2 separate regions of the Homo sapiens genome follow, and region 2 is linked to region 1. Evidence: fine-mapped expression QTL. Tissue or cell type: whole blood. Region 1 holds a variant in brackets; the other region holds the start of a gene. All regions are shown on one strand. Distances are between the middles of the regions.

Region 1 (8,103 bases):
GCCTCTGTGAGCTCTGGGGTCAGGCGGGGACTGGAGGAGCGTCCGCGCCGGGAGGGAGCGCACCGCGCCACGTGCCCGCCCGGCGCCCCGCCCCCACCCCGGCCACGCCCCTCGCGCTTCCCTCAAAGCCCCGCCCCTCAGCCCCGCCACTCTCGTCCGCCCCGCCCCTCGCAGCCTCAAGCTCAGCGCTCCCGGAGGCGCGGACGGTGGGGCCCCGCGCCTTTTGTGTCGGGCTTTGACCGCCGCGCGCGCTCATTCACCTCAGCGGCCGCGGGCGGAGGGGCGCACGCGCGCGCAGTCCCCTCGGAGGGCGGTGGGGCGAACAGCAACGCGCGTACCCTAGCTCTTGGCTGCTGTGCTGAGACTAGCCCGCGCGCCCGCGCGCCTCTCCCTCGAGGACTCGGAGCCGCCCGCGCACTCGCCAGGGGCCGCCGCCCCGAGTCTCAGGCGGACGCGCACGCGTTCCCGCCGCCCGGACCCCAGCCGGCTCGCCCCCCGCCCCCCCATCCCCCGGCGGCGGCCCCCAGGCACGCGCCCGCGCACACGCCGGCCCGGGCACGCGCCCGCCAAGATGGCAGGGGCCGGGGCCCAGCTGTCAGTCGCCGCCGCCGCGGCCCTTCCCCGCAGCTAGCGGCCCCGACGCCCACCCGGAGAAGATGAGCCCCCGCTGCCCCCCGCAGCCCAGTCAGACGCGGAGCCGCCGCGCCCGGGGCCGGCTCCCCCGCTAGCGCCCGCGTCCCGCGCCCCGCCGCCGCCGCCGCCGCCGCCGGGTCGCCCCTGGCCCGGCGCGCCCGTCCCCGGCAGCGACAATGAGGTGAGTCGGGGCCGGCGCCTCGTGGGAGGTGGCAGCGGCCAGCGTCGGAGGGGCTGGGCTGGGGGCCCGCGGTGCCCCCGAGGGCGGGAGGGGGGCTCCACGGGCGCGGGGGCTTCCAGAGAACCGCGGGGGCTCTGCAGAGATTCGGGGGCATTCAGAGCGCGGGAATGGCTTCGCGAGAGCCGTGGGGGCGTCTGGAGAGCCGGGAGGGTCTGCAGGGCTTGTGGGGGGCAGTGTTCTGCAAGGGGCAGGCGGCGCTGGCTTTGGCTGCTTGTGGGGTCCTCTTAGGCTCCGGGGGGCCTGCGGCGGCCTGGGAGGCAGACCCCCGCGGGCAGGTGTGGCCGTGTCCCGACCGCGCGAGGACCGAAGTTGGCGGAAGCCCCTGTGCGGTGCCTTCCAGCCCGGAGGAGGCTGGCCTGAAGCCCCCAGGCGTTGCCGAAGCCTCCCCCTGCCAGCGCCCAGAGCCGCGTTTGGGCTTTTACAGGTGTAGTTTCCCCTCGACTTGGAGCCCGTCAACCCCTTCGTCTCCTAATTCTCAACCCCCCTTTTTTTTCTTCTTGCACGCCAGTAAAGTGCAAGGCCCCCAAATGTACCGCTCGTTGATGTATCACCCAGCTCGGGAGCCTGCTGATTATCAGGCCAAGAAATAAAACCTTGCTTCTGCCAGAAGCCCGGTGCCCTCTCCCAGTCGCTAAACCCTCCCTTCCTCTCCAGATCCTGTCGTGACTTTTTTGGGGTAATCACTTTTTTTTTTTCCATTTGTAATTTTGCTTTCTGAACACGTATCTCGTAAAAACTGTAGTTTGTAACTATAGTTTCGTTTTGCCTGTTTTGTATTATTTATGACAATGAAATAATACAGTATTCTTTTGTGTCTGGTGTTTTTCAAGATGTTTTCGAGATCCATTCCGTTGTAATCGTTATTTGTTCATTTTTATTGGTCTATAGTATTCTGTTGTAAGAATATACCACAGTGTACGCATTCTACTGTTACTAGACATTTTAGTTGTTTCTAGCTTTGTTGGCTATTAATAATGCTGTTATGGATATTGTTGTGTATCTCCTGGTGCATTCATTTCGATTGGGTAGATATCTAGTAGAATTTTTAGGTCAAAAGATAAGCATATCTTTAGCATTAGCGGTAAACACCAAGTTGCCAAAGTGGTTCTACGAGCTGACATTCTTACCAAAAAATGTGTGAGAGTTCTTGTTGCTTCACCTCCTTCTCAACACTTGGTATTGTCAGTCTTAAATTTTAACCATTCTGGTGATTATGAAATGATATCCCATTGTGGTTTTAATCTGCAGTTTCCTGTTGACTGATGAGGCTGAACATCTTTTTATTTTTATTTGGTATAGTTTTCTGGAGTGCCTGTTCAGATATCTTGCCCACATTTCTCTTGGGTTTTTGTTTGTTTGTTTTGAGACGGAGTCTCGCTCTGTTGCCCAGGCTGGAGTGCAGTGGTGCGATCTCGGCTCACTGCAACCTCTGCCTCCTGGGTTCAAGCGATTCTGCTGTCTCAGCTTCCCGAGTAGCTGGGATTACAGGTACGTACCACCACACCTGGCTGATTTTTGTATTTTTAGTAGAGACGGGGTTTCACCATGTTGGCCAGGCGGGTCTCGAACTCCTGACCTCAGGTGATCAACCCGCCTTGGCCTCCCAAACTGCTGGGATTACAGGCATGAGCCACCGAAAATAGTTTCCTGTAAAATATTAGAAAGCTTACATGTGTTTTCCCTTTTACATTAAGATATATGGTTCACCAGAAATTCATTTTTGTGTGACATAATGTGAAAAAGGGGTTAAATTTTATTTTTACTTAACACCATTTTTTTCAGCACCATTTATTAAAAAGATAATCTTTTCCCCATAACTCTGTTGTACCACCTTTGTCATCTTCCAGTCTTCGCTTTGGAGTTATTTTCTTTCTGCCTGAAGAATACTCTTCAGTATTCTTTAGTGCAGGTCTGGCAACAAATTCTTAGTGTTTGTCGAAAAACATCATTATTTATTCTTCATTGTTTTCTTTTTTGTAAGTTTTATTGAGATATAATTCACACAGTAAAATGTACCCATTTAAAGCCTATGGTTTAGTGGTTTTTAGAATATTCAGTTATACAACCATTACCACATCTAATTTTAGAACTTTTTTCCATTTGTGAAGTGTCTTTTTATTAGTTTTATAGAACTCTTGGTTTGCCATTGATTTCTTTTAGCATTTTAAAAATTTAATTCACTTTATTTTTCTTGTATAAAAATCCTGCATTGTATAATAGCCATAGCTGGAGCCTGGGTTCTCTGCAGTGGAGACTCTGGTCAGTGAATTCCTAGTTTCCTAATAGGTAGACTTGGTGAATATGGTCTCCTTCCAGAGCTTGGGGATCAGATAGCTGTAGGTCTTTGAGATGACATTAACAGTGGCCTTGGTGAAGTTGCCCAGGGTGGCAGTGCAGCCCCTGACTGAGGTGTGGCAGTCCTTAATGCCAGCCATCATCAACAGCTTTTTGGGCACAGAGATCAAGATGAAACCATTGTCTCTGTGTGTAGAGATGAGGTGTACCAGCACAGAGTTGCAGTGGTCTGTCACCTTGCAAGGAATGCCGTGGGGCTTGCCAGTGTTGTCTCCTGAGATGCCTCTCTGCACCGGGACAGTGGAGAGCTTGACAAAGATGATGACTCCTTGGATGGTAGTAGGTACCGTCTTGGAGCATTTAACACCCAGACCGACATGGATATTTTAGTCCCCAATGGCAACAAGTGCCTTGAATCTGGACCACTGGCCAGTGCAAGTCTCCATTTTTACTGGCATAATCTTAAACTCATTCGTGAGGGTTGCCCCCAGGAAAAAGTCGATGATCTCAGCCTCCTTGATGGGCAGGGAGAGGAGATAGAGCTTCAGGGACTTAATCTTCATGTCCTTGACTATGCTGCCCAGTTTGATGATGGGGACCTACTCCTTGGCCTTGGCCTTGGCCTTGGCCTTGCCACCACCAGCTCCGTGGCCCCAGCCTTAGCCCTGGATGCCACTGCTGTGGCTTCCCATTTTGGGGCCTCTAGGCCCTCCCACTGCACTGGTCTCATTCGCCATTTGGTGTTTTCTTGGAGAACTCTTTTAGCATTTTAAAGCTATTTCATTATCTATGACTTAGTTTCTGTTGAGAAGTCACTTGTCAGTCTCTTGTTCCTTTGAAAGTAGTCTTTTTCTCTGGCTGTTTTTAAAGTTCTGTCTTTGGTTTTCAGCAATTTTTCTATACTGTCCCTAGTATGGATTTCTTTTTATTTATAATTAGAGTTTTTAGGGATTCTTGAATTTGTGGCTTCATGTCTTCCATTGGTTTTGGAAATCATCAGCCATAAGTACTTCAGTTATTTCTTCTGCCCCATTTTCTCTTACCTTTCCTTCTAGGGCTACAGTGATATATGTGAGACCAGCAGTTCACAACTTTTTTGGCACCAGGGACTGGTTTTATGGAAGAAAATTTTTCCTTGGGGGGTTAGGGGGGTAGTTTCCAGATAAAACTGTTCCACCTCAGATCATCAGGGATTAGCTTCTCATAAGGAGTGCACAATCTGGATCCCTTGCGTGCACAGTTCACAATAGGGTTCACGCTTCTATGAGAATCTAATACTTCAGCTCATCTGACAGGAGGCAGACTGCAGGCAGTAATGCTCACTCATCTGCCACTCACCTCCTGCTGTGTGGCCTGGTTCCTGACAGGCCATGGACCGATACTAGTTCATGTCCAGGGGTTGAGGACCCCCATGTTATTCCATTTCACTATATCTTCTATGTCTCTTAACTGTTTCTCTGCATTTTACATGTTTCTCTCTCTCTTCTTTATTCTGGTTATCTCCTTCTCACTGTCTGTCTCTCTCCATCACCCCTCCTCTGCTGTATATAATCTGCTATTAAAACCACCCATTGAGTTTTTAATTTCAGGGTTTTTAAAAATTATTTTTAAATTTCTTTTTTGTTTTTTATTTTTATTATTTTTCAGAGTCTCATTCCTTTGCTCAGGCTAGAGTGCAGTGGCTCAGTCATGACTCACTACAGCCTTAAACTCCCACCTTAGCCTCCCAAGTAGCTGCAGCTACAGGCACACGCCCCCATGGCCAGC[TTTTATTTATTTA/T]TTTATTTATTTATTTATTTATTTATTTATTTAAGTGACAGGGTCTTGCTGTGTTGCCCAGGCTGGTCTCAAACTCTTGGCCTCCAGTGATACTCCTGCCTCAGCCTCCCAAAGTGCTAGGATTACAGGCATGAGCCATTGTGCCCAGCTGATTTTTATATTTCTATTTGTTTCTGTTTTATACTTCCAAGCTATCTGCCAAAATTATCAGTCTTGTCTTTTACCTCCTTTAACATAGTATGTGTAATTATCTTAAAGTCCATGTTCAATTATGGCAATCTGTTAGTTGTTTCCAGTGTCTGTTTCTGTTGATTTTCATTCATATTGTCTTGTCTCCTTATGTGCCTAGTGTTTTTTTTAATGTGTGGTAAACATCATATTTGCAAAATTATTTGTAGGAATAATTTGAGGCCTAAGATGATGCTTTTTTCTTCCAGAGATAATTAATATCTGCTGTTATAAGGCACATGGGAGCACTTACAATTGGCGTTGCCTTCAGTACAGTTTCAGGGATTGAAATATCTCTAAGCTGAGCTGCAGTTCTTGTGAAGACAAACCTGTTCTGTTCACTTTTCCTCCTAATGTTCTCTTCTTCACCAGCACCTTTACTCTCCACCCCAGCGCCAATCTTTTAGCATTCCCTTCAGAATTGATAAACACCCTTCAGGAAAATTAGCCTCAAACACTGAGCTCACTTTCTCAGGCTCTGACTTGCTTTCCTCCCCCGTGCCTCCAAGCAGGTATTTCTTACATTTTTCCCAGCGTTTCTAGTTCTTTTTAGATGGAGGATTGTTCTGATTGTTCTGATTAGTCCACAGTTACTATCAGTAAAAGTCCCTGATTTTTGCATTTTCAGGAACAGTTTGAGTCAATATTCAATTCTGGAGATTCATGCTACCAGGTTATGGAAGCTGTAGAGAACAGTGACACCTATTTTCTTGTGTTCTGTCCTAATTGTATTAGATTATCTCTGCCAGTTTGTGAAATGCTTTTGGAATCAAGATAACTTTAAGAATAAGTCTTTAACTCCTCTTAATAAATAATTAATTGAAAAAAATAGCAGTTTAGCTCAGGTCATTAAAACAAAAGATTTGGGGGGCAGGTACTTTTATCTCCTTTCCATGGTTCCTTTCTCCTGTCTTGATTTCCTTATTTATTTGATAAAAATTATGCTCTAACCAGTCCTCCTGAATAGAAATTTAATTTATTTTTTATTTTTATTTTTTAGATGGAGTCTCACTCTGTTGCCTGGGCTGGAGCACAGTGGTGCGATCTCAGCTCACTGCAACCTCCATCTCCCAGGTTCAAGTGATTCTCCTGCCTCAGCCTCCCGAGTAGCTGGGATTACAGACATCCGCCACTATGTGCGGCTAATACATCGTATTTTCATCCGCCACTACGCGCGGCTAATATTTTGTATTTTTAGTAGAGACGGGGTTTCCCTGTGTTGGCCAGGCTGGTCTCAGACTCCTGACCTCGTGATTCGCCCACCTCGGCCCCCCAAAGTGCTGGGATTATAGGCATGAGCCACCGTGCCTGGCCAGAACATTTAATTTTTGAGTCTACAGTAGCATAAGAGCATTCTCAGATCTCATTCTTTGGGATCTAAAAAAGTCATGGATGGCTGGGCACGGTGGTTCATGCCTGTAATGTCAGCACTTTGGGAGGCCAAGGCAGGCAGATCACCTGAGGTCAGGAGTTTGAGACCAGCCTGGCCAGCATGGCAAAACCCCCATCTCTACTAAAAATACAACAGTTAGCCAGGCGTGCTGGTGGGCGACTGTAATCCCAGCTACTCAGGAGGCTGAGGCAGGAGAATCACTTGAACTCGGAAGGCAGAGGTTACAGTAAGCTGAGATCTTGCCATTGTACTCCATCTTGGGTGACAGAGCGAGACTCTGTCTCAAAAAAAAAAAAAAAAAGTCAGCAGGGTGCGGTGGCTCACGCCTGTAATCCCAGCACTTTGGGAGGCCGAGGCGGGTGGATCACGAGGTCAGGAGATCGAGACCATCCTGGCTAACACGGTGAAACCCCGTCTCTACTAAAAAAAAATACAAAAAATTAGCCGGGCATGGTGGCGGGTGCCTGTAGTCCCAGCTACTCCGGAGGCTGAGGCAGGAGAATGGCGCGAACCCGGGAGGCGGAGCTTGCAGTGAGCCGAGATCGCGCCACTGCACTCCAGCCTGGGCGACAGAGCGAGACTCTGTCTCAAAAAAAAAAAAAGGCATGGATGTAGAAATAAAAGTTCTTAAGTGGTTTTTCCAGAATGAAGAGCCATTTTTCTTTTCTTTTTTTTAAGTCAGTCATTTTTTACACAGATTTTTAAAATTGCTACAGTTTAACCTGGTTCTCCATTGCAGACTGCTTATAGTTGAATACCTATACGTGTATATTTACCTGTACCTGAAGTACTTGGCTTTAGTACATGGATTTAAATGAATCCAGGGGGACTTTTCATTACCTTTGTTGTCAGTTGATTTGATTTGATTATTTATAAGCAATTTGGTTTACCTATGATAACACTTTCCTTTTTGTTCAGTCCTAAATTTTTAAAATGAAAGTAACGTATTATTTCTCTTGATAGATACTGTCATGAGAGTACGTAGATATGACCTATTGCTAAAAGTCTAGAATGTAATATCCAAACTGTGTTCCTTTTGGAGCATCTCAGGAAGCCATAACGCTGGAGATGCATTCTAACAAGTGAGCTAAACACTCGAGGCACATGTCCACTTATTTTAGCAAAAAAGTACTATTGAATCGACTTATTCAAATAAAGAAGTCTAAGTCTCAGTTTTTCTTTATTTTCTAGACTACTGCCTGAATTCTTGTTTCTCTTTTTCTAACAGACTCTATGTATTTTCATATTTTCATTGAGAAATCGTTTTTTGAAGGCTTACTGTTGTCTGGTACTGGATTAGATGGGGTAAGGAGGTGTAAGGAACTAGACACTCCCATCCCCCACTCTCACCGCCCATACACAAATAATCCCCATACCTAAAAGATTTACAGAAACTTACTAAATCTTTCTGCAGTTGCTAAAAAAAAAACAACAACAAAAAAACCCACCCACATATACACAATATGCAATCTATTTCTGCTTATATATTCGAGTCATTTATCTATTGGGAACATTCTCTTCTGTGAACATTTTC
Region 2 (8,103 bases), 91 kb after region 1:
CCAAAACAAAAATATGTAACATTGTATTTTGAGTAACATATGACAGCTACACCATAAAGGATGGGAATGGAGAATGAAATTATGCAATTATGAAGTTCTTAACATTTTACTGAAGTGGTACAATATTAACTCTAAGTGTACCCTACAAAGTTAAGAATGTATATTGTAATCCCTAGAAAGACCTCTAAAAAAAAAAGAGGTATAGCTAAAAAGTCAATAGAGAAATTCAAATGGAATTCTGAAAAGTATTTAGTTTACCCACAAGAATACAGGAAACGAAGAACAGAGGAACCAGAAACAGATGAGACAAACAGAAAACAAATAGCAAAGTAGTAGACCTGTATCCATCTACATCAATAAACTAAATGTAAATAGACTAAATACCCCAATTAAAAGATAGAAATTGTCAGACTGGGTGAAAATGCAAGACTCAGTCATACACTACCTATAGGACATACTTTAAATACAAAGATACAAATCGACTGAAAGTGAAAGGATGGGTAGTAGGCAGAGTAATGCCATCACCCCGCCGTAATCCCTAGAACCTGTGACTGTGTGACTTTACATGGGATGGGCATGGTGACTCATGCCTGTAATCCTAGCACTTTGGGGGCCAAGGCAGGAGGATCACTTGAGGCCAGGAGTTTGAGATCAGCCTCGGAAACATAGCAAGACCCCATCTCTATTTAAAAAACTGTTTTCAAATTAGCCAGGCATGATGGTGTGTGCCTATAGTCCTAACTACTCAGGAAGCTGAGGTAAGGAGGATCACTTGAGCCAGGAGTTTGAGGCTGCAGTGAACTATGATCACACCACTGCATTTCAGCCTGGGTGACAGCAAGAGACCCTGCCTCTAAAAAAGTAAATAAATAAAATGTTACCTTACATGGCAAAAAGGACTCTGCAGACGTGATTAAAGTTGTGGACCTTGAGATGGAGCGGTTATCTTGGATTATCCATTGGGTCCAGTCTAATCACACGAGTCCTTAAAAGTAGAGAACCTGTCCACACCGCGGTCAGAAAGAGATGTCACTGTGGAAGAAGGGTCGGAGCACTGCTGCGTGCTTTGAAAGTGGACAGAGGGGCTATGAGAAAGCAATGCAGTCAGTGTCCAGAAGCTGAGAGAGGTGAGCAAGAGAGACCTATGTGGAACTTCTGATGATGTTGGGCTTCTGACCTCCTATCATCTTACAAAACTCTAAGATAATAAGTGTGTGTTGTTATAAGCCACTCAGTTTGTGGTAATTTGTTACAGCAGCCGCAGAAAACCAATGCTGCATGGAAAAATGTACCTAACAAGAGCTTCAAGAAATAGTGACAGAATTAAAGAGGGAAATCCACAGTCACAGTTGAAGATTTCAGGACCTTTCCCTCAGCAGTTGATAGAATAATTAGACAAAAACAAACAACAGCAACAAAAAGTAACAAGGACGTAGACGTTCTGAACAATACTATTAACCACCATGACCTAATTGACATTCTAGAACACTGCACCCGACCAGTTTCAGAATACACATTCTTTCCTTGTGCATATGCTACATCCGCCAAGGTAGACTGCATGCTGGGCCATAACGCACATTTTGATAAATGTGAAAGGATTGAGATCATACCAGGAAAAACAAAGGAAGAAGTCACACCAAATATGTTCTCTGGCCCCAGTAGAATTAAATTGGAAATAGGTAGCAACAGATATAGGAAAACACCAAATATTTCAAAATTTAACGAAGCACTTATCAATAATCCATGGATAAAAGAAGAAATCACTAGAGAAAATTAAAAATATTTTGAACCAAAAGAAAAAAGAAAACTGCAATACATCCAAACTGTGGTTTGCAACTAAAACAGTGCTTAAAGGGAAATGTATATCATTAAAAGCCTTTTAAAATGCATTTTTAGCATTCAAAGTGCATTCATCTCTCCAATTAGAACTGATACTTCTTTTGTACTGTACTCTGTACAGCTGTTTTTCACTATATCAATAATATTTTAATGGATCTATTAAATATTTGCTAACATTATCAACCTCTTCTTTTCTAAACCATAAAAGTCCTTTAAGGACAAGTACAGTCGTTCTCAATTTTTTGTCTGTGATTTCTAACACAGTGCATGCTTCTTAGTGAGTTCTCAGTAGATTTTGAAAGAAAGATTGGACTGGATCTTACCTTCATGAGAACCCTGTGGAGATAGGCAAAATAAGTATAACCCCATTTTACAGTTGAGGCCACCCACTTAATAAACAAGTGACAAAGCCAAGTTTCCAGTATTCCTCAAGTGTTTTCCTTTCAGGCTCTAAATTGCTGACTTAAATGTCATCATTAGAGAGAGTTGTCTCCTCGGTAGAAGTACAAATTTTGTTCCAGAGTCAAATATGAAGACTTGATCAGTGGCCTGGCGCGGTGGCTCACGCCTGTAATCTCAGCACTTTGGGAGGCCAAGGCAGGCGGATCACCTGAGGTCGGGAGTTCGTGACCAGCCTGACCAACATGGAGAAACCCCGTCTCTACTAAAAATACAAAATTAGCTGGGCATGGTGGCACATGCCTATAATCCCAGCTACTCAGGAGGCTGAGGCAGGAGAATCGCTTGAACCCAGGAAGCTGTGGTGGCGGTGAGCCAAGATCGTGCCATTGCACTCCAGCCTGGGTGACAGGAGTGTGAAACTCTGTCTCAAAAAAGAAAAAAAGACTTGATCAGCTTATAGCCTTTATCATCTAGTCTTCTATTCTCTGGAGAGTCAGTGGGGACTCTTCCGAGTTCTTGTAGCCTTTTCTTAAGGCCTATAGGAAGTCATCTGTGCTGAGCCTGCACTTTCTATAACAGATGGAAAACTGAAGCTCAGACATCTTAAGTGGCATTGACTTAGACTATAGAGCTAGTTAGTGGGGGGCCAGCACCATGACCTGGCCCCTACCTCCAGCAGGCTTCACCCACCCTTGCACCCTTGCAGGAAGCACTTAGAGGCTTGAGGTTGCCAGCTGTGGGGGGTTGGGCCTGTGCAGTGCCTCTCAGCCGCCCACGCTGGTGGGGCTCTGCAGTGTTAGCTTCTTGTTTCTCTATTTTCTACCTAGGTTTCAGTTTTTCACTTGGGTTTGTTTCCCCTTTGTCTCTGGTTCAGCTTCCTTTTCCTGTTTGGTTTTAAGTAGGCTATAAAAATCAAGTTGCTGTCTTCAGAGGGTCTGTGGTCCTCTGATCAACATAGGCTGGTGGGAGTACAGGACTCGCCTCCTCAGGGTTCCCTGTGCTGCCACTTTTCAGCCATGGCCACAAGGTGAGTATTGGAACCAGTGCAGGGGACAGAGGGATGTCAAGAGGAAACCTAGAATCTTAACGGTGAATGGGCTGTAGAAATTATCTCAGGTCCCCTTAGTATACTGATCGAGAAGTCCATGACCAGAGGGCAGGGGGCTTACATGAGGTTACACAGCAGGTTAGTGACAGTCTGCTCCCTCTCTAGCCGCTGGTCTTTCCATTACACAGGCCTGTGTCTCTTGATGCCTGTGACCTTTAATGGCTTCTGAGTCAAGGACTTACTTAGAAATTAGCACCTGCCTCTCATTATAGGGAGGAGGGTCTGAGCCATCTAGGGGAATTGTTGTTTAGCTCAGAGGTACATTTGGTGAGTCCTGGCCCTTCTCTCTAGAATGACCCGAGACTGGTTGTTTTTTCTAAATATAGGCAGAGAGGGTTCTTTTTATGATAGGAACTTCATGAACTTAATAGCAAGAGTCCTGACCCTCCACTTGAGAGACTTGTGGACTTAGGCTATTGCTGTTGAGCACATGTGTGAATACCAGCCAGTCTACAAACCGCACTCCTCATTGAGATTGTTCTCTCTAAAGGTGAGATTACATTTTGGACCTGCCTCTCCCCTGCCCTACAACTCTGAAAGATTATAGATGATAGGACAGACAGACTTTTATCCTGTGGGGTTTGGGGCATTTGTTTGATTGACTCATGACAGCTTTGTTTTTTAGCATAAAGTAACAATCCCTCACTTTGAAAATTATTTCACAATTTCCAAAGTGCCATTTCGCCAGTTTTCTTATTTGAATCTTTTAGCCGTGTTAGATTGATGAGAACGCTGTCATCACTCCTGTTTCGTAGCTGAGAAAACCTCTGAAAAGTTGTGGGGTTTGTCCAAGGTCACATGGCAGGTTGGGGAAGGAATGGAACCAGGGTTTAACGAGGTTGGCCTCATCCGGTGGTTTTCGCAGCACGCTACACAGGCACAGAAGCAGCTTGCAGTGAGTTGTTAAAATTGACGTGGTGATAGGTAGAACTTGTCCAGGGCTGCTTATTTTCCAGTTGGCTTTATTTCTGATCCTGTCATTTTAGTAACTTTCCTTTAACTTTAGAGGACTCGTGAGTGGAGCTTTAGAAAACAGAATGCTTTTCATTTCAAAGGCATATCAACTTCCAAAGTCATTTTCAGTTGTAAATTACATTGTGAAAACTTCTAGCAGCTTATTCTACCGTGTCAATTACTAATTGCAGAAAATTATATCAAAAGTAAATGAGGCACAGCAATTTCTTTTTCAATTTTAAAATCGTAGAAATCCTAGAAATTTCCATCTTGAAAAGACCTTGGAGGTGATCTACAGTAGATAAGATGTTTTGGGCACCTTATTCTCCACTTCAGCCAAAATAACTCTGCTTTTATGTTTTCTATGTATTCCTTGATAATTCATTGAGAAAAAACAGTCATTGTTGGTGGTGGTGATGACTTTCAAGTCTGAAGATTACACTAATCTAGCCCAGCTCTTGAGTGCGCAGATCAGGAAATTGAGGCCCAGTGTGGAGCAGAATTTGTGTACGGGGAGCGGAGTAGTGGCTGAACCAAAGCAAAAGCCCAGGTTTTCTGGTGCGTCCCTCCCCCGTACAAGGCTGCTTGCACTCTGCCACAGGTCCCTGGCCTGGCACCATAGTGACAGTCCTGGTGGAAGCAGCGTTCGTGGAGCTGCAAGGTCAGCAGCCATAGGAGCTGTGAACTTTTCGTTTTTCCTCATGCTGACTGACACATGGGGATACCGTGGCGCCTGTGGTGGGGATACAAAGGACCTTTTAAATGTGAAAATATATCTTACCAGCTCTAGCTCTGGCTACCCACCAATCAAGAAACAGTTTCCAAGCCCTGACTGGATTAGGAGCTGGGAATTCTCTTGAGTGCATGACAACGTACAGAATGCTTTCACTGACGTTATTTAGTTATCGCAATAATCCTGAAGGTAGTGTTGTGGGGCGTTTTTGTTTTTGTATTTTTTAGAGATGAGGTCTTGCTTTATTGCCCAGGCTGGCCTCAAACTCCCGGGCTCGAGCAAGCCTCCTGCCTCAGCGGGACTACAGGTGTGGGCCACCACACCCAGCTAGCATTGTTTTTATTGTTTCTGTTTCACAGGAGAGAGTAACTTGACAAGAGACATAGCCAGTGAGTGATAGACCCAGGACTTGAACCTGTGCCTCCTGACCACAGATGCTTTGCCCTTTTGCTCTTACGCCTGAATTAGAGCTGCCTCTGTCCTCAGGGACTGGTAGGGAGTGAGGAAGACAGCACTCACAGAAATGAGGAGGCGACTGGCTGTGAGGACCCTGCAGCACAGAGAGTAATAAGCATAGACAGGAGGGGCAGTAAGAGTTGAGAAGTTGGGGACTGTCAGGGAAGACCTCAAAGAGAAAGTGGGATCTCAGGTGAACTTTGAAGAATAGGGATGATTTTTTAGAAGGCACTGGCAGGCATCACAGGCAACCAGTCACCCAGCGGCTGCTCTGGGTGCTAGGGACACAGTGGTAAACAAGACAGGCAGTCTTGTCCTCAAACTGAGGGCAGAGTCGGGAGGCAGAATATAGTCAAGAAACCATCAACAAGAGACGTGAAAACAATAGAGCAGTGTGGTAGAGAGTGACTGGGCCACGCCTTAGGGGACATGTGGGGACATGAGGCAGCCATGCTAAAATCTGAAGGTTTTGGGGTGGAAAGGGCAGCAAGTATCCTCAGCTGGGGACGAGGCCCTGAGATAGGAATGGTTTGGTGGGTTCAAGGGTCAAGAAAAATACAGAGGCTGGAGCAACATGAAGAAGGAAGAGTGAAGGCAAATAAGGGCACAGAAGGCTTTATCAGGCCCAACGGCAAAGCCTGCGAGCTGTGCTGAATTTAGCGCGTATGTCAGAATTTAGTTAGGGGAAGCCTTTGGAGGGAGGGTTTGAAGCAAAGGGAAAGACATCTCATAGAAGCTTAAGAAAATCACTCTGGGCCCTGTGTGGATAATGGCTGGCAGTGTGGCAAGAATGGAGGCAGGATGACCTCTTGGGAGGCTACCGCAGTCATCCAGGTAAGAGGTGAGGGTGGTTTGGGCCAGCAGTGGAGCAGTCAGGGTAGGCGGTGAGAAGTCACCAGATTCAGGAAGTGCCGTGGTGCTGTAGCCTCCAGGACTATCTGGTGGATCACACATGGGCGTGGGGGAAACATGAGTCAGACATGGCTTAGGTGGGTGGTGATTCCTTTCACCACGCTGGGGCAGCTGGGGTGCTAGCTGGAAGAATCTGTAGAGGTGTGGGCCTAGCAGCACAGGTTCCCAGGAAATGTGGGTTGAACAAGGCTGACCTGAGCAGGAAGTAGCTGAGGTCGCGGTGCAGCAGCAGGAAACGTGATATGGATGTGTGATATGTCTGCCACTTTTGGGGCCAGCCAGTTAATTTCGTTTCCTTCCCTGGTCTCTCTGTTGTCTTTGGTAGGCTGTGGGTTTTTCCGAAGCACGTACTATCTTCTAACGTATTATAGAACTTACTTGTTCTACTGTATACTGTCTTTACCCCTCAAGAATGTAAACTCCCAGAAGGCAGGGATTTTCGCCTATTTTGTTCAGTGGTGTATCCCCAGTGCCTAAAACATTGCCTGGCAATACACATTTATTGAACTGCTGGATTTAATTAACTACTTTGATATATGGTCCTAAAGATTCCTGTGCTACCAAAGTTGCTACTCAGTGGAGCTTCCTGGTGTGGCATGTTAGAGAAGAGACCAGAAAAACAGACATTTCACTTGCTGTCAGGTAGTGAAGGAGCTGTGGCTGCTTGGGCACAGTCATTACTGTTTATTCCACTGTGCTGCACATCTTGAAGCTGTAAAGATATAAGAAGTCTCGCACAGCCGGGGTTCAGCTTACAATCCTTCGCACCTAATTGTACGCCTTTGTGTGAGGGTTTGGAGGAGTCTCCAGGAACACCTGGTGTTTCCTTTCTCACAGGTATTTCCAGTCCTCACGGGCAAGTCAGAGAGTCCCAGAGGCAATTGAACAAGCCCTCAGAGATCACGTAGTCCGTTCACTCTCCATGGGAACCCGCACTTCCCTAGAGACCTGTAGCCAAATCATTTGGAGAGCTTCTGAAGCTTCTCTGCCTTCCTCTGTCTCAAAGAATCCCATGTGCCTCTAGTTGAGAAACATTCCTCTGGAGATTCTAGGTTATTCTCATGAGAATGTTACGATACTCAGGTGGGCTGGGGCAGAAAATGGATGAGAACTAGTGTAGTCCAATGGCTTTGCTTTGGTAACTGAACCCACAGAGGAGGAAAATAACAACAGCTCAGCTTTTCTCAGTGTTATACACCAACCATTACGCTAGTTACATGATATACATACTATTTAATTCTCATCCTTTGAGGTCTGGTATCACTATTGCCACTTTACAGATAAGAAAACAAGGGTTGGCCGGGTATGGTGGCTCACTCCTGTAATCCCAACACTTTGAGAGGCCAACGCAGGTAGATCACCTGAGCTGAGGAGTTCAAGACCAGCCTAGGCATCATAGTAAGACCTCCTCTCTTAAAAAAAAAAAAAAAAAGAAAGAAAGAAAATAAAATTAAAAAATGAAAATTAGCCAGATGTGATAGTGCATGCCTGAAGCCTATAGTCCCAACTTCTCAGGAGGCTGAGGTGGGAGGATTGCTTGAGCCCAGCAGTTCAAGCCTGCAGTGAGCTGTGATCACACTACTGCACTCCACCCTGGTGACAGAGCAAGACCCTACCTCAAAAAGAAAAGAAAACAAGGGCCTACAAAGTATCGTATTCCAGGTCACATTGTTGTCACTTGACGGAGCTTTTGATCTCT

The links. PIP is the estimated chance that this variant, and not a neighbour inherited with it, causes the effect.
Region 2: EVL starts here. The variant in region 1 is fine-mapped to the expression of EVL in whole blood (INTERVAL, PIP 0.96).

What each region holds. Positions count from the first base shown.
Region 1 is chr14:99,971,244-99,979,346 of GRCh38, forward strand. It overlaps a transcript of EVL not described here and the pseudogene RPS2P3. Among named protein-coding and RNA genes, the nearest start is that of EVL, 90 kb to the right of the region's middle. RefSeq lists silencers at 81-130, 271-350. The variant TTTTATTTATTTA/T (reference allele first, on the strand shown) is at 4,937.
Region 2 is chr14:100,062,244-100,070,346 of GRCh38, forward strand. It overlaps EVL (Enah/Vasp-like), which reads left to right and starts at 3,179. Exons shown (of 14, transcript NM_016337.3): 1 at 3,179-3,268. The coding sequence starts at 3,258. LOC124903379 (a long non-coding RNA gene) reads right to left here and starts at 1,801. Exons shown (of 2, transcript XR_007064329.1): 1 at 887-1,801. RefSeq lists enhancers at 2,653-2,702, 3,053-3,142, 3,193-3,272, 3,323-3,462, 3,843-3,922 and 6 more.